2 separate regions of the Homo sapiens genome follow, and region 1 is linked to region 2. Evidence: fine-mapped expression QTL. Tissue or cell type: whole blood. Region 2 holds a variant in brackets; the other region holds the start of a gene. All regions are shown on one strand. Distances are from middle to middle. Region 1 holds the start of KIAA0930. Region 2 overlaps KIAA0930.

Region 1 (8,332 bases), 20 kb before region 2:
ATGCCCACATCTCAGGCTTGCCCACGTATTGGTATCACTGCTGTAATAATTACTACAACGTTATTGCCTTAACACATTTCCAGTTCTGTAGGTTAGAAGTTCAACTGAGGTCTTGCTGAGCTAAAGTCAAGGTGCAGGCAGGGCTGTGTCATATCTGGGGGCAACTGTAGGAGAATCTGTTTCCTTGCCTCTTCCAGCTTCCGGAAGCTGCCTGTATGCCTTGTCTTGTGGCCCCTTCCTCCCTCTTCAGTGCCAGCAACATTGCATTTACCTGACCATTCTTGTGTTGTCACATCTCTTTTTGACCACAGCCAGGAAATGTTCCCCGATTTTAAGAATTTATGTGATGAGATTGGGCCCACTTGGATAACCCAGGATAGTCTCCCTATCTCAGTGTCTGTACTCTTAGGCCCCATGTGGCAGCTCATGCCTGTAATCCCGGCACTTTGGGAGCCCGAGGTGGGCAGATCACTTGAGGTCGGGAGTTCGAGACCAGCCTGGCCAACATGGTGAAACCCTGTCTCTACCAAAAAATACAAAAAATAGCCGGGTGTGGTGGCACACACCCTTAGTCCCAGCTACTCAGGAGGTTGAGGTGGGAGGATGGATTGAGCTGGGGAGGTGGAGGTTGCAGTGAGCTAAGATCGTGCCACTGCACTCCAGCCTGGGCAACTGAGTGAGACCCTGTCTCGAAAACAAACAAACAAAAAATCACGTCAGCAAAGTCCATTTTGCCAGGTAAGGCAACATATTCACAGGAATTAGCACAGGAATTAGGGTGTGGGCATTTTGGGGCCATTATTCTGCCTATATACTTTCAATTCTATTTTATATTCTGAATATTTGTATACAGAAAAGTGCATAAATAATTACAAAATGCCAGCTTTATATATATATTACATACATATATTACATATATAACATATATATTATATATATTACATATATATATGTTATATATACATATATATATATTTTTTTTTTGAGACCAGGTCTCACTCTGTTGCCTAGGCTGGAGTGCAGCAGTGTGATCGCGGCTCACTGCAGCCTTGACTTCCCCGCCTCAAGCAATCCTCCCACCTCAGCCTCCTGAGTAGCTGTGACCACAGACGTGTGTCATCACACCTGGCTAATTTTTTTTTTTTTGTAAAGATGAGGTCTTGCTATGTTGGCCAGGCTGGTCTCAAACTCCTGGGCCTAAGCCAGCCTCCTGCCTGCCTTGGCCTCCCAAAGTGCTGTGGTTACAGGTTTGAACCACAGCACACAGCCTTTTGATTTTCTAACTTTTTTTTTTTTTTGAGATGGAGTCTCGCTCTGTTGCCCAGGTTGGAGTGTAGTGGCACAATCTCGGCTCACTGCAACCTCTGCCTCCCAGGTTCGAGCGATTCTCCTGCGTCAGCCTCCAGAATAGCTGGGACTACAGGTGTGTGCCATTACGCCCAGCTAATTTTTGTATTTTTAGTAGAGATGGGGTTTCGCCAGGTTGGCCAGGCTGGTCTCGAACTCCCGACCTCAGGTGATCTGCCCGCCTTGGCCCCCCAAAGTGCTGGGATTACAGGCGTGAGCCACCATGCCCAGCTGTGCAGCCTTTTAATTTTCATAAACTGACCACACCCGTGTAACCAGCCCCCAGATCAAGAAACAGAACATGCTCTGTAGCCCCAGAAGTCCTGCTCCTGCCCTCTTCCCATGCACAGTGTGATTTAGCATTTGTTGACATTAGAAAATTCTGTGTATATGTGAGGTCAGGAGTTCGAGACCAGCCTGACCAACATGGAGAAACCCCATCTCCATGAAATTAGCCGGGCGTGGTGGCACATGCCTGTAATCCCAGCTACTTGGGAGGCTGAGGCAAGAGAATTGCTTGAACCTGGGAGGTGGAGGTTGCGGTGAGGCGAGATCGCGACATTGTACTCCAGCCTGGGCAACAAGAGCAAAACTCCGCCTCAAAAAAAAAAAAAAAAAAAAAGAAAGAAAGAAAATTCTGTGTATAGGTAATACCTGGAGTATTATTGAAATACAAAGGAGAGAGCCCAAGCGATGTTTGTTTACTCATTCATTCAACAGATATTTTTCTGGCACCAGTCCTGGGCTGGGTGCCACGGGAAGTGGGATGAATTGGTTCAATGCTGGTCATATGACACAGAATACACGGAGGCAACTGTGTGCAGGAGGGTGGGGTGGGGAAAGGGGGTTTGTGAAGCAAATAAGAACACAATGCATTGGCCAAGCGTAACCAGGCAATGTGGGTCCCAAAGGCAACTACAGTTGCGGAGCAGAAAGGATTTCAGGCCAAGGGAACACTGTGGGCAAACGCATGGCAGTGGGAACAGGCAGGGGGTGCTGTGGGGTTTGGGGAGGCAAAGAGGGATGTGACTATTGGACTTGACAGCCTTGGAGCACTCGCTCATGCTGTCTGATCCACCATCCCCAGTTCTCACGTCCACCAGCCCAAACCCCAGCTCTCCAGACGCAGAACCAGAGGCCTCAGCCCTCATGCCAGTGTCCTCACTTTACAGACAGGGATGCAGGCCCACTGGAGAAGAGAAATACACGTGAGGCTGGTCGCGCACTTCCTTCATTCCCTCACTGCTCACCTTTCTACAGAGCCCTCCTGGGCCTGGCACTGGGGACACAGAGGGGTCAGATGTGGCTCTGCTCTGAAGAGTTCAGGGGCCAGTGGCACAAAACTGGGGCAGAGGCCTGAAGCAGGATCCAGATCCCATCTCCCTTCTGGGGCTCTGCCCAACCCCACGGCTCCTTCCTGCTGTGCCTCCCAGGAAGACCCCTGCGTCCCCATCAGACCTCTCCATCATTCTTCGTTTATGCAGCCTACATTTTTTTTTCTTTTCTTTTCTTTTTTTTTGGGGGGGGACAGGGTCTTGCTCTGTCTCCCAGCTTGGAGTGCAGTGGCGGGATCTCGGCTCACTGCAGCCTCCGCCTCCCAGGTTCAAGCAATTCTCCTGCCTCAGCCTCCAGAGTAGCTGGGATTACAAATGTGTGCTACCATGCCCGGCTAATTTTTGTATTTTTAGTAGAGATGGGGTTTCACCATTTTAGCCAGGCTGTTCTGGAACTCCTAACCTCAGGCAATCCACCTACCTCGGCCTCCCAAAGTGTTGGGATTACAGGCATGAGCCACTGTGCCCAGCCTGCAGCCCATATCTATTTATTGGGCATCTAATGTGTGCCAGGCAATGTTCTGGGTACTGAGACAACAGCTGTGTAGTAGACAGGCCCCTCCCTCGGTAGAGAAGAGAACAAGTGAACCCATAGGTATCCAATGTGTCGGGAGGAGGTAAGTGTCACCCTGTGAAGGAGAAACAGACTAAGGGAAGAGAGAGGGAGGGAAGGCGGTCAGGGGAGTTTCTTTGAGGATGTGACACTCGGGACACAAAGGAAGCAAGTTACACAGGAATGGGGAGAAGAGGACTCCAGACAGGGGAAAGGGGGACCTTGATGGGTCTGGGGTCCACACACAGGCTGTGAATGCAGGGAGTGATGTAGATTTAGCTTTGGAGAGACCTGGAAATCAATGCTGGTCTCTCCATCTCCCCCTGTTCTTGGAAATGGACCACCAGGCGTGAGGTTTGGGGAGGCCACTGGCTGCTTCTCCGGTGTCTTCCTGTATCAGCCACAACTAGCACACGGAGGGATGCTGGCCAGACCTGGCTTCATCAGGATGACACGCCCAGCTAACCTCATACCTCCCCCTTCATCAACACTCCCCCATGTTGGGGAGGCAAGGCAGGGAAAGGTCCCCCATGGTGCAGCTGAGGAAATGGAGGCGCAACACTCTGCACTGTGCCAGGTGCAGAGGAGGGGGGCCGGAAGGGCTTTGCCACGGTGTCCCCCAGGAGACCACCTTCTGGGAGCAGGTGACCTCTTGAGGGGTTCTGCGGAGGAAGTTCCCAGAAGTCAGCCGAGGGGACTTGGTGGAGGTGGCAACGCACAGGGCGGGTGACAAAGTACACATCCCGTGGGGTAGCAGCGGGGGAGGGGAGAGGTGCCCTGAAGGGGCGGCGGGAGGGGCTCAGAGGCGTGATCCCGTTGGTGGGGCGTTTAGGACCTTGGGTGGAGGCGGGACCCCGCGAGCGGTTTGAGGGAGGCTGTCCTGGGCATCCGAAGATTGGCGGAGACTGGCCGTTTGGAAGTGGGCGGGGCAAGGGAGGTCAGGGGGCGGGGCCAGGGAGCCGGGGTGGGTCCGGGCCGTTCAGAGGCGGGGCGGGAGGGGACAGGGGCGGGGCCGGGGCGGGGAAGGGGCGGGGCCGGACCGGGGCCGGGCCGGGCCGGGGCGGGGCGAGCGGAGCCGGGGGCGCGCGGGCGGCGGCGGCGCGGAGGTGCGCTCGCCGGTGCTGTGTTTGGCGGGTGGTGGCGGCGGCGGCGGCGACGGCGACGCGCACAGAGGCGGACTGTGGCTTCCTTGGTGCTCGCGGCGGGCTGCGGGCCGGGCCGCCCGCCCTCCCCGCCGCCGCCGCCCCCGAGCCTGCGGGCGGCGCCGAGGCCGAGGAGCGCTCGCTGCAGCACATGCTGCGTGCCATAGCGGAGGAGCGCGGCCGTCTTAGCCTGCGCCGCGAGGTCTGCGGCCTCGGTGAGTGGGACCCGGGGGCGAGGCCGGGCCGGGAGAGGTGAGCGTCTCCGGGGCCGCCTCTGCGCGTCCGTGTTTCTGTGCGCCCCGCGCATCTCTGTCTCTGCGCGGGTGTCGTGGTCTCTGGGTCTGCCTGGGTACCCTGTCTTCCTCCATGGCCCCCCCCCCACCGTCCCTGCATCTGGGTCTGTCTCTGCTTTCCGTCCGACGAGCGCCCCGCACCCCTGTGCCCGGGTCTCATTCGGCGTCTCCCCCTGTCAGTCCGTCCGGGTGTCTGTCTCATCTTCCTCCTTCTTCTTCGTGTCTCTGCGGGTCTTCTTCCTTCTCCAGGAAGCCCGCCCCGGGCCCTCAGCACCGCGGTAGGGAGTGTGGGCGTGGGATCTGGGTACACCCTTAGCCCAGCGCGGCAGGGTCGGGCCCTCGTTGGGCTCTGGGTGGACCTCGCTGCGAGCGTGCCCTGGCCACTGTCTCCTGCTACCCGAAGCCTTTGTCTTTCCGCACCCACCGGCCCCTCTCATCCCTTAGCTGTATCCAGGGACCTGTTGGGCAATGGCCCCCCGAACCCGCCCGCTTGGCTGAGGGGCAGGGCCTGCTGCCTCTCGGTGTGATTCTGGGCTTTAAGTCATGGATCTGCTGGGGGGCGTGGGATGGGGGTGCCTCGTATTGTTTGGAAGGGCCTGGGACTGCAGGTGTGGGTGGGGTCTCCCAGCCAGTGAGGTAATCCATTACTGATGGATCATGCCCAGACTGAAGCCCAGGAGAAGCCCCCTCTTTTGTCGTCTCAGGTTCGTCATTTTCTCCATGGAAAAGACCCCTCCCTCCTCCGTGCAGGGAATGACTTCATACCACATTGTCAGCCACCCCCCACCCCACCCCCAGGCTAGGCTGGGGATTTCTGAGGGGGTGACAGCATTGCTGAGTACGGAATGTCAGCCTTCCAGATTCACCCCTTCATTCACCGTTGGGGAAACTGAGTCCCAGAGAACAAGTGCATCCCCCTAAGGTCACACAGCTGCAGGGACATGGCAGTCCCAGGCATTCAGGGCCCCTCAGCAGGCCACACCCTGGAGGCTGGAGTGGAGAGAGGAAGTAAATTTGAATCCCTTTTGTAGGAGGCAGGCTTAGCATGGGAGGCTTCCCAGTGAGCAGGCCCCAGCCTAGCCTGCCCAGGCGAGCCTTTCCTCATGCAGGGGTGGGGTGGGGGGTGCTTATGAAGTGAAATGGACAAGAACTTCAATGGTTGACAAGGTTTCAATGGTTTCTTTCTGAAAAGGTGTCAAGATTTACTTTTGAGCAGAAGTTGGAGCGTGCTTATTCATTCATTCTGCAAACATTCATTGAGCACCTACTGTGTGCCACCGTGGCAGGCCCACCTGTCAGCTGGCACCGAATATCTGAGCTGGGATGCATCTGAAGGACCATCTGCTGCAGGTCACTTGGCCCTGTTTGCTCAGCAGCTTCAAGCAGTCCCTCCCCACTCCCCTGTCCACACACACCTATTGTCCTCTGACCACCTTTACCTGTGAGCACCTTCTCTCCTCTTCTAGGCAGCCCCTCCCGCAAGGAGGCTGCAGGGCCATTCCCAGAAGAACAGTGAACAGTGAAAATGGCACCTAGCATTTACTGAGCACTTACTATGTGCCGGGTGCTTTACTCATGCTGCAAATTTAATCCTGACACAATGCTGACTTTGCCAGGGAGCAGTATTATCTCCATATCAGCGATGAAGAGCCTGAGGGTGAGAGAGAGAGAGAGAGAGAGAGAGAGCCTGCCCAGGGACAACCAATGAGGAAGCAGCATAGCAGCATAGCCGGGACTGACCCTCTGCCAGCCTGACCTCAGAGCCTGCCCTCCACTCCCTGAATATCCCCAGCCAGGTCTTTATGTGCCTACGATACTCACGCTGTTTCCTTGTCTCTTCTCCAGGCCTCCCGCACGTGCCAGGTCTCCCCTCTTCCCCTGCTGCTGAACTCAGTCCCTGCAGGGCTCTGAAGCAGAGAAAACCTGCTGTTTTCTCTGCCCGGAAAGCCGCCCCTACTCATGTGCCCCACAAGCATCTCTAAGTTTTCCTTTAAGTCTCAGCTCCAGTGTTGCCTCTCCGGGAACTCTTTCCAGCTCCCAGGCACACAGTCCTGTTCTGCCTGTGTTCTCTTTGTGCCAGGCACATGTTTGTTGGGACAATCAGGATGATTGTGGCCTTGTCATGGTCTGTGTGCTGTCTCCCCAGTTAGCAGGTGAGGCCTTCAAAGGCATTACCCAGTCTGATTCATCTTGGTGCCCAGCATGGGGCACATACGGAGCAGGTGCCCAGTAAACATTTAGTGAACAAGTGAGAAAATTATTATCTGGACTGGCAGATGAAGGGCGTGGAGGGCCACGGAGATGGGAATCTTAGCTTCTTAGAAGGCCTCATTTTTGGCCGGGCGTGGTGGCTCATGCCTGTAATCCCAACCCTTTGGGAGGCTGAGGCGGGCGGATCATGAGGTCAGGAGTTTGAGACCAGCCTGGCTAACATGAGGAAACCCCCGTCTCTACTAAAAATACAAAAAAAAAAATTAGCCAGGCGTGGTGGCGGGCGCCTATAGTCGCAGCTACTCAGGAGGCTGAGACAAGAGAATGGTGTGAACCCGGGAGGCGGAGGTTGCAGTGAGCCGAGATCACGCCACTGCACTCCAGCCTGGGCTACAGAGTGAGACTCTGTCTCAAAAAAAAAAAAAAGGGCTCATTTTTCAGATGAGAGATTTGATGTTCAGCGAGGGGTGAGCTTACTAGGAACTTGATGCCCAGAGTGGAGCGCACCTCTCACCTCTCAGGTGTGAGTCCTGAGAGGAGCCAGAACACCAGCCCCGGAGCACTTCTGCGTCCACTGAATCATCAACACTCTCAAGCTGTGGGGGCAGGGTTGTGTTTGATCATCTCCACTTCACCTCTGTGACAGCCTGTTAGATTTATGAATGAATTTAAATCTCCCAGATTTTTGTTGTTGTTTAGCAAAAGCTTGGGTTACTCAGAAACCTGCTGTGTCCTCTGACGTTGTTTTGAAGGTGTCAAGGGAGCCTCAGGTGGAGGCGCTGGGCTTTGGTTGAGTGGTTGTCATTCTCTGAGTCAGTGTCTGTCTCTGAGATGGGACTAAGCTCCTGGCCCTCCTCACTCAGGGGTCATCGCTCAGCTCTCGTGATGAAAGGCACCTTGTAGATTTCACATCTGGCTTTTGAGGCTTGTCTGTGGCAGCCTCTGCAGTAGAAGGGGAGTTGAGCACTTGCTCTGTACTGAGAGGGGGCGGGAGTGTTGGGCCCTGATCCCTGCCTTGTGGGAGGGCACAGTCCATGGGGGAGACAGCCAGGAGCACAGGTCACTGTTAGCTGAAGTACAAACCCTGCTGGAAGCAGTGGGGCTGCGGCTGCCCGGAGCAAGATTTTGGTGTTGCATCCACAGGACACTGCTCATGACTCCAGGTCACAGATGAACCAGGTGATTCAGGACCCAGGTGTGCGATGCAGACATTTGGACTGAAGGGGGACAAACCCTGCCACTTCTTCCCGGGGCTTGGGCCTTCTCCTGGGCCCTGGGCCTCAGCCCAAGCACACAGGCTCCCTTTCAACAGGGGCAGCCCACCCGACAGTTGGTCAGGTAACGTGGACGCGACCTGGGCCCAAGACCTGGTGTGAGTCCTGAGAGGTGCCGTGAGCAGGTGGGACCCACATCCGGCTGCTTGTCTCTGTGCCCTGCCTCAGCTGAGCATTC
Region 2 (8,332 bases):
GCCTCGTCAGAGCAGCCAGGGGCCTCCCTGGACAGTGCCTTTGTTTTCTGTGCCCCGAGGGAGGGAGGCCCTCAGCTGGAGAGGCTCTGGGAGAGGCTCTGCGAGGCACGAGTGGATGAAAGGCCTATTGAGGGGCCACAGAAGCCCATTCAGCCAGCCCTGGCTGCCTGGGTGCGGAGGCTTACAGAGGGCCAAGGGCCGCCTGGACTCTCCCCAAAGAGTCCAGTTGACCCCCACCTTTGGACCATGACCAGGGCCAAGTGGAGTCTATTGCTGAGCCCGGTGTTCTCTGGAGAGGACCCTCTCAAGGCCCTTGACCCAGACAGTCCCGGGACAGGCACCCAGCATCTGCAGGCCACCCCACGGCAGACGCCTTCTCAGCCCCCTCCCCACCAAACACTTCAGGGGTCCCCAGCCCTCTGGGGATAACACAGAACCCCTGACCCAGGGAAGAGGGCCCGGCCCCTCCAGCTCTTCTTCCCACTCTACTTCCTCAGCCTCAGGGCTGATCCACCATCCTGGCCTCACTCATCTTCCCCCAAGGGGAGCGTTGAATGCCGTCCACCTTTGCCTGCTTGATTCCTAGTTTTCCTTGAGTCTCCAGCTGACTGGCATTCCCTGTCCAGCCACCACCTTCTACTGGTGCCTGCCACAGCTACCATCTCACTTCTGTCTGTGTTACTTAAAATTCATCCTGCTTCCACTGAAGCTGGGGATGGCGGGGGCAGCAGGGACCGCATGAGACCAAACTAACTGATGTGAGGACGAGTGGGTTCAAACACCAGCTTCCAACCGCGGGAGCCGGGCAGTCTCCCTCCTGCCATGTCCTCGTTTGTAAAATAAACTGCTTCAGTTGTTGTGAGATCAAGAGCGTCAGGCCTCAGTGTTGAGCACCACGCCTGGCACACAGGCAGCCCTGGGTGTATTTGTAAACATGCCGCAGAGTATTTGTAAAACAGGACGAAGTTATTCTGGCCTCACTTTTTTTTGTCTTTGTTTTATTTGCGGGATGAGGATCTGTGCACTGCACCACTCTTAACCCTTCACTGTGGGCATGTGCGTGTAATTCCTTCAGTCTTTCCTCCTAGGCATTTTTTAAAATAGACAGTTTCCTTCATTTAAGTATTCAGGTATAATTTTGTGTCCTGGCTTTTTTCCTCTACCATGAGCGTTTTTCCAAGTAACTGCATTGTTAGAAATATTTTGGTTACTTTTTGGATAGGTAAACGTGCTCAGGGTACAAAATACAAAAGGTTTGAGAAGGTTCTTAATGAAAACACTGAGTCTTTCTCCTTCATAGTTTTTCTCCCCAGAGGCCATGAGGATACTAGTAATGATGTAATAATACTTTCCCACCCTGGGTGCTGGCTCAGTGGTTACCCTGGGTGCTCATCTGGTGCTGATCCTGGGTGCTGTCTCAGTGCTGACCCTGGGTGCTTATCTGGTGCTGATCCTGGGTGCTCATCTGGTGCTGATCCTGGGTGCTCATCTGGTGCTGATCCTGGGTGCTGTCTCAGTGCTGACCCTGGGTGCTTATCTGGTGCTGATCCTGGGTGCTGTCTCAGTGCTGACCCTGGGTGCTCATCTGGTGCTGTTCCTGGGTGCTAGCTTAGTGCTGACCCTGGGTGCTGGCTTAATGCTGACCCTGGGTGCTGGCTTAGTGCTGACCTTGGGTGCTTATCTGGTGCTGATCCTAGTTGCTGGCTCAGTGCTGACCCTGGGTGCTTATCTGGTGCTGATCCTAGGTGCTGGCTCGGTGCCAGCACAATTTTAAAGGCTTCACGTGGATGGACTAACTTTCAACAACCCAGGAGGTAGATACCATTGTTACTGCCATTTTACAAGTCAGGAAACAGGCACCAGGAGGTTTGGATTTGTCTGTCACATGACCAGAACTGCCAGAGCCAGGATGGACCCTGACCATCTGGCTTCCTCACCTCCCTTCTCTTCCGCAGGCTCCAGCAAGCATTGGAGTCATCTTAAACGATTGGCTTTAATAGGAAAAACCTCTAATATTGGTCTGCTCTCCATTTTTTGCTTCATTTATTCTAGAGAACTTTCTTCCTTGGAACAGATAGAGTTGCTTCAATCTTTTTTAATTGCTGCGTAGTGTTCTGTTCTGTGAATGTCTTATAAGTTAGTTTATTTAATTACTATCCCTATTGATAGGACCACTCCACTATTTTGCCAACAGTGCTGTAATGCTTAAAGAATCTTATGTAGGTGGTAGGTAGTGAGACCACAGGGAAAAATTCATCTGTGGGATCGCTGGGTCAGAGGTAAAATGCGTTTGTGATTTTGACTGTCTGATATTTTTGGCAGTTTACGTTCCTACTGCAGGATATAAAGTCCCTGTTTCTCCACATCCTCTTTGACCTGAAGTGTTGTCAGGTATTTTGATCTTTGCAAACCTGATAGATGGAAAATAGAATTTTGAGGCTTTAATTTACATTTCTCTAATTGTGTCAAGCTGAGCATGTTTTTGTGTTCTAAAACCACTTATATTTCCTTCTGCTTTCCGTGCCATTTTATTTTCTTATGCATTGTGTACAACTTAGTATTTGTTAAGGAAATTGCCCTCATGTAAGGGTTCCGTCTGTGTTTCCAGTGTGGTATTTGTTTTTTGCTTTGTTTATGGTGTATGTGTGTGGTGGTGGGGGGGCGGGGGTGGTTTTTTTTCCCCTATAGAAATTTTTAATTTTTGGCCAGGCCCAGTGGCTCATGCTTGTAATCCCAGCACTTTGGGAGGCCAAGGCAAGCGGATTGCTTGAGCTCAGGAGTTTGAGACCAGCTGGGCAACATAGTGAGACCTCATCTCTACAAAAAATACAAAAAGTAGCCAGGTGTGGTGGCGTGCGCCTATAGTCCCAGCCACTTAGGAGGCTGAGGTGGGAGGATCACTTGAGCCTGTTGAGGTCAAAGTTGCAGTGATTGTGCTACTGGACTCCAGCCTAGGTGACAGAGTGGGACCCTGTCTCAAATAAGAGAAATTTTAAGTGTTTATATAGTTTGATTGATCATTCTTCTCCTTAATAGCTTTTATGTTCTCCTTAGAAAGGCTTCTCCCTCTCTGAGGGAATAAAAAATCCTCTCATGGTTTTTCTTTTTTATAGTTTTACTTTTAACATTAAAAGTTTTAATCTTTTTGGAATTTATTTTGGCTTGAGCAGGGACCCAACCTTATTCTTTTTCCTCAGCAAGCCACTTGTACCAAGACCAATTGTGGAAGAATAATCTACATCCTATTGATTTCAAGTGCTGTCTTCATAAAAACTCTTGGCCAGGCGCAGTGGCTCATGCCTGTAATCCCAGCACTTTGGGAGGCCAAGGCGGGCAGATAACCTGAGGTCAGGAGTTTGAGACCAGTCTGGTCACCATGGTGATACCCCGTCTCTACTAAAATAGAAAAATTAGCCTGGCGTGGTTGCGCATGCCTGTAGTCCCAGCTACTCAGGAGGCTGAGGCAGGAGAATCGCTTGAACCTGGGAGGCAAAGATTGTTGTGAGCCAAGATCGTGCCACCGTACTCCAGCCTGGGCAACAAGAGTGAGACTCTGTCTCAAAAAACAACAACAACAACAACAAAAACCCAGTTATTGTGTGTTTGAGTTTTGTGTTTTTGCTTTCTATTCTGTTCCATTGATCTGTCCAGTCATGTACTGATACCACCTTGCTTTCATTAATCATTTAATTCATTTATTCAATTAGCACATATTTATTATGTCATATATGCCATTCTGGAAACTAAATGTATAGCATTGAACAAAATGATCATAGAGCAAAGCTAATGATGTGTTCATGGAGCTTAAGTTCTGGTAGGGCATCTGCGTGAAAACATACATCAGCTTTGGTAGGGCAGGTGTTGGCAAACTATAACCCTAAATCCGGACTGTTTCCTGTTTTTGTAAAGAAACTTTTATTGGAACATAGCCATGTCCATTTCCTTACATATCGCCATGGCATGCCATTTCTTTACGTACTGCCATGCCATTTGCAGCTATGGTCTGCAAAGCTGAAGATATTTTCTCTCTGGACTTTCATGGAATTTGCTGACTCCTTTGCTAGGGAAAGACTGAAAGTAAACAGAATAGGCAAAATATATATTCGATAGTGACAAGTGCTGTGGAGAAAAATCAAGCTGGAAGTGGGATAGGGCATATTGAGGGTGGGATTTGCAATTTTAAATCAGGTGGTTTGAGAAGGCCTGTCTGAGAAGGTGATAGTTCAGTAAAGAGCCTGGGGGCAGGTCAGGAAATAAGCTTGGTGGAGGAATTTGAGCTGAAAAGTGACCAGAACTGATGTGTGTTCTAACAGTGGGCAGGGTGGAAACGCAGAGACCAGTGAGCAGGCAGTGATGGTGATACAGGCCAGGATGGGGACGCTTAGCACAAGGTGGAAGCAGTGTTTTGTGAGAAGTGGGTGGGGTTGGGGGGGCCGGGCACAGTGGCTCACACGTGTAATCCCAGCACTTAGGAAGGCCTAGGTGGGAGGATCGCTTGAGCCCAGGAGTTCAAGACCAGCCTGGGCAACATGGCGAAACCCTGCCTCTACAAAGAATACAAAACACAGCTGGGCATGGTATTGCATGCCTGTAGTCCCAGCTACTTGGGAAAGTAAGGTGGGAGGATCGCTTGAGGCTGGAGGTCGAGGCTGCAGTGTGTCGTGATCATAGCACTGTGCTCCAGCCTGGGTGACATAGATAGACCCTGTCCCAACATAAAATAATAAATAAAAATCAAGAATG[C/G]GTGTTGAATTTGATTGAATGCTCCTTCAGCATCTGTGGAGATAATCCTGTGTTATTTCTCTTTTGAGCTCTAAATAGATATGAATATATTAATAGATTTTCTAATATTGAACCTTTTTTTTTTGGAGACTGAGTCTCTGTCGCCAGGCTGGAGTGGCCCGATCTCGATCACTGCAACCTCCGCCTCCTGGATTCAAGCAATTCTCCTGCTTTAACCTCCTGAGTAGCTGGAATTATAGGCACCTGCCACCGCACCCGGCTAATTTTTTTGTATTTTTAGTAGAGACGGGGTTTTACCATGTTTGCCAGGCTGGTCTTGAACTCCTGACCTCAGGTAATCCTCCTGCCTCGGCCTCCCAAAGTGCTAGGATTACAGACGTGAGCCTCTGAGCTTGGCCTAGACCATTCTTTATTCCCAGTTAAATTCTGCTTGGCCAATGGCATATATTTTTAATAAGTTGCTGGATTCTTTTAAATACTATTTTTAAGATTTTTGTCTTGACATCTGTGAGATTAGCCTGTAATTTTCTGTGTGTGTGGTCTTCGAAATCAATACTGTGCCTCCTTGTGAAAAAGAATTGGCATGTTTCTTAGGCTCTGAAGTTGTGTGAGTAGCCCTGAAGCTAGCTGTCTGTTTCCTGAAAATCTGATAGGATTGCCTTCCCAAAATCACTTCTTGGGCTGGGCGCAGTGGTTCACACCTGTAATCCCAGCACTTTGGGAGGCCAAGCAGGCGGATTGCTTGAGCTCAGGCACTCAAGACCAGCCTGGGCAACATGGTGAAACCTGTCTCTACCAAAAATACAAAAATTAGCTGGGTCTGGTGGTGCATGTCTGTGGTTCCAGCTACTCAGGAGGCTGAAACAGGAGGATGGCTTGAGCCCAGGAAATGGAGGTTGCAGTGAGCCGAGATCACATGATGTTATTCCAGCCTGGGTGACACTGAGACTCCATCTTAAAAAAAAAAAAAAAAAAAAAAAAAAAAACAATCACCTCTTGGCCTGCTGTGTTAATGTACTTTTTTGGGAGATAGTTCTTGGACATTTTTCTTTATTTAATACAGAACCATCATTTTTAATGGCTATAAACTATTTTAATCAGGGCTTTACCATAACTTGCTTGTGTGGTTTAATGGTTTAATCCTTTTCTAAAAAAGGATTGGGGTGGGTTTCAAGGAATGCCTCCTAAAGTAATTCGCGATTATTCCCAGGGTCTGGTTAGTGGAAAATGTTCCAAGTTATCATAGTAACCACAGTGGCAGTTGTCATTCATCGTTTCTAAGTGCGTGTTGCACTGCTGAGCACTGTGTAGGAGCTCATTTGGTCTCCATGGTAACCGTAGGAGGCAGCTGTTCTGATTTTACTGATGAGGAAACTGAAGGTCTGAGAGGTTCAGTCACTTACCCACGTGGGCAGTGCATCACAAATGGGAATCAAGTCTGCTCTTGAACTCCAATCTGACAGTCTTCCCCCATCCCATATTGTGATTGGATTCACGTGAAATGCCTCGAAAGATAAAAGTTTCCCTTTTCAGTGTGCATCTGAAGAACCATCCCCATGGAAAATAATTAAATTATGTTAAATTGGCACTCGGCTGGAAAGTGGATCCCACAGCCCCTGTGCATGAAGCTCTTGTCTGAAGTTCTTTCACGGGTTCTTAGACTATCCCAGGAAGCCCTGATGGTGCTTCAGGGCTCAGAGTGGCCCCTGTGAGCCCACCCCGCTGGGGACTCAGAAGTTGGGGGAGGGGAGAGGTCTGAAAGCCTGAATTGCTTTCCTAGCTGTTCACCAGGTGACCCCCGGGTTCGCTTAGTTTCTGCATTTGTAACATAGCTGGGAGAATCCTCCTGCAGGGCCAGGCTAAGGATAAGGATGTGGGCTTATCCAGGAGAAGGATATGGGCTCTGTTGGAGGGGCTGGGTTTGTGTCTCAGCTCCTGCACACACCATCTAGCCACTAGAGTCTCAAGTTTTGGTTGAAAATGAAGACTGAGGTTTGAAACTAAGCTGAGGTGGTCCCCACCTCATAAAGTTGCCATGAGGATCTGAAAAGACAATGGGTGAAAGGGCTTTATAAACTGTAGGGTGGCCGAGCGTAGTGGCTCACACCTGTAATCCCAGCACTTTGGGAGGCTGAGGCAGGTGGATCACCTGAGGTCAGGAGTTTGAGACCAGCCTGGCCAACATGGTGAAACCCTGTCTCTACTAAAAAAAAAAAAAAAAAAAAAAAAAAAAAATCAAAAAAATTAGCTGGGTGTGATGGTGCATGCCTGTAATCACACCTACTTGGGAGGCTGAGATGGGAGAATCACCTGAACCTGGGAGGCTGAGGTTGCAGTGAGCCGAGATCGTGCCATTGCACTCCAGCCTGAGCGACAAGAACAAAACTCTGTCTCAAAAATAAATGAATAAATAAACACACTGTAGGGTGCAGGGCACGCGCGAGCTGTCATCACGTTCCTCGCTCCTGAAACCAGCACTGTTGAGCTCTTGGTGCTGTCATGCCACCAGTCCAGCGTCGTGCAGAACCAGGAGGAGAGTTAGTGGCAATTCAGAGGTGGCAGACACCGCACTGGGGTGTGGACGGCCCAGGCTTAGTGCTCACTTCCCACGCGCCCTCTCCCCTGCTAGTCCCTGGAGTCACTCACCTGGAAAGGGCTCTTCCAGTTCTGGAGTTCGAAGAGAGTGACTTACAGAAGCAGGTCACTCGCTTGAGGCAGGGGAGACAGCTGGATCACCAGAACTCCTGGCAAATATCAGTTTTCCTGGTCCAGGCCATTGTCATTATTCACGGATTCACCTACTCACTGAAATTTATTTGTAACCCTAAAATCAGTACTCATGGCACTTTCGGGTTAATGACTGACATTCATGCAGTGTCGAAAAATTCCTTACCTGACACAGGTTTCCAGCTGAGGTCAGACAAGGCGATGCTCCGTCTCACACTGTAAAGAAGTGTCCTTTTTGCAGTCTAGTTAGTGCCATGTATTTTGCATTTTTTGTGCTTTTTGTCAGTGCTTTAAAATGGCCCTGGGCTGAGATGCTATCTAGTCCCAGGCACAAGATGGCTGTGATGTACTTTATGGAGAAAATACATGTGTTAGAGAAGCTTCGTTCAACATTGATTGTTGTTGGCCATGAGTTCAGTGTTAGTGAATGAACTATATGTTAAATATGGTGTCTTTTTTTTTTTTTTTTTTTTTTTTTTTTGAGACGGGGTCTTGCTCTGTCTCCCAGGCTAGAGTGCAGTGGCGTGATTTTAGCTCACTGCAACTTCCGCCTCCCGGGTTCAAGCGATTCTTCTGCCTTAGCCTCCCAAATAGCTGGGATTACAGGCGCCCGCCACCATGCCCGGCTAATTTTTGTATTTTTAGTAGAGATGGGGTTTTGCGATGTTGGCTAGGCTGGTCTTGAACTCCTGACCTCAAGTATTCTACCTGCCTTAGCGTTCCAAGGTGCTGGGATTACAGGCATGAACCGCCGCATCTGGCCTTAAATAAAGTGTCTTGAAAGAGAAACATACATAAAGTAAGGTTATGAATTGATCAGTTGCTGAAAATGTGATCAGAGGACCCTAACCTTGTATTTGCC

Evidence for each region. PIP is the estimated chance that this variant, and not a neighbour inherited with it, causes the effect.
Region 1: KIAA0930 starts here. The variant in region 2 is fine-mapped to the expression of KIAA0930 in whole blood (INTERVAL, PIP above 0.99).

Annotation. Positions count from the first base shown.
Region 1 is chr22:45,236,899-45,245,230 of GRCh38, reverse strand. KIAA0930 reads left to right here and starts at 4,337. Exons shown (of 10, transcript NM_001009880.2): 1 at 4,337-4,591. The coding sequence starts at 4,528. RefSeq lists silencers at 4,014-4,213, 4,244-4,303, 4,464-4,523, 4,674-4,763.
Region 2 is chr22:45,216,980-45,225,311 of GRCh38, reverse strand. All of the region lies in intron 1 of KIAA0930, which reads left to right. Among named protein-coding and RNA genes, the nearest start is that of KIAA0930, 20 kb to the left of the region's middle. RefSeq lists enhancers at 1-887, 1,089-1,588, 1,589-2,090. The variant C/G (reference allele first, on the strand shown) is at 4,744.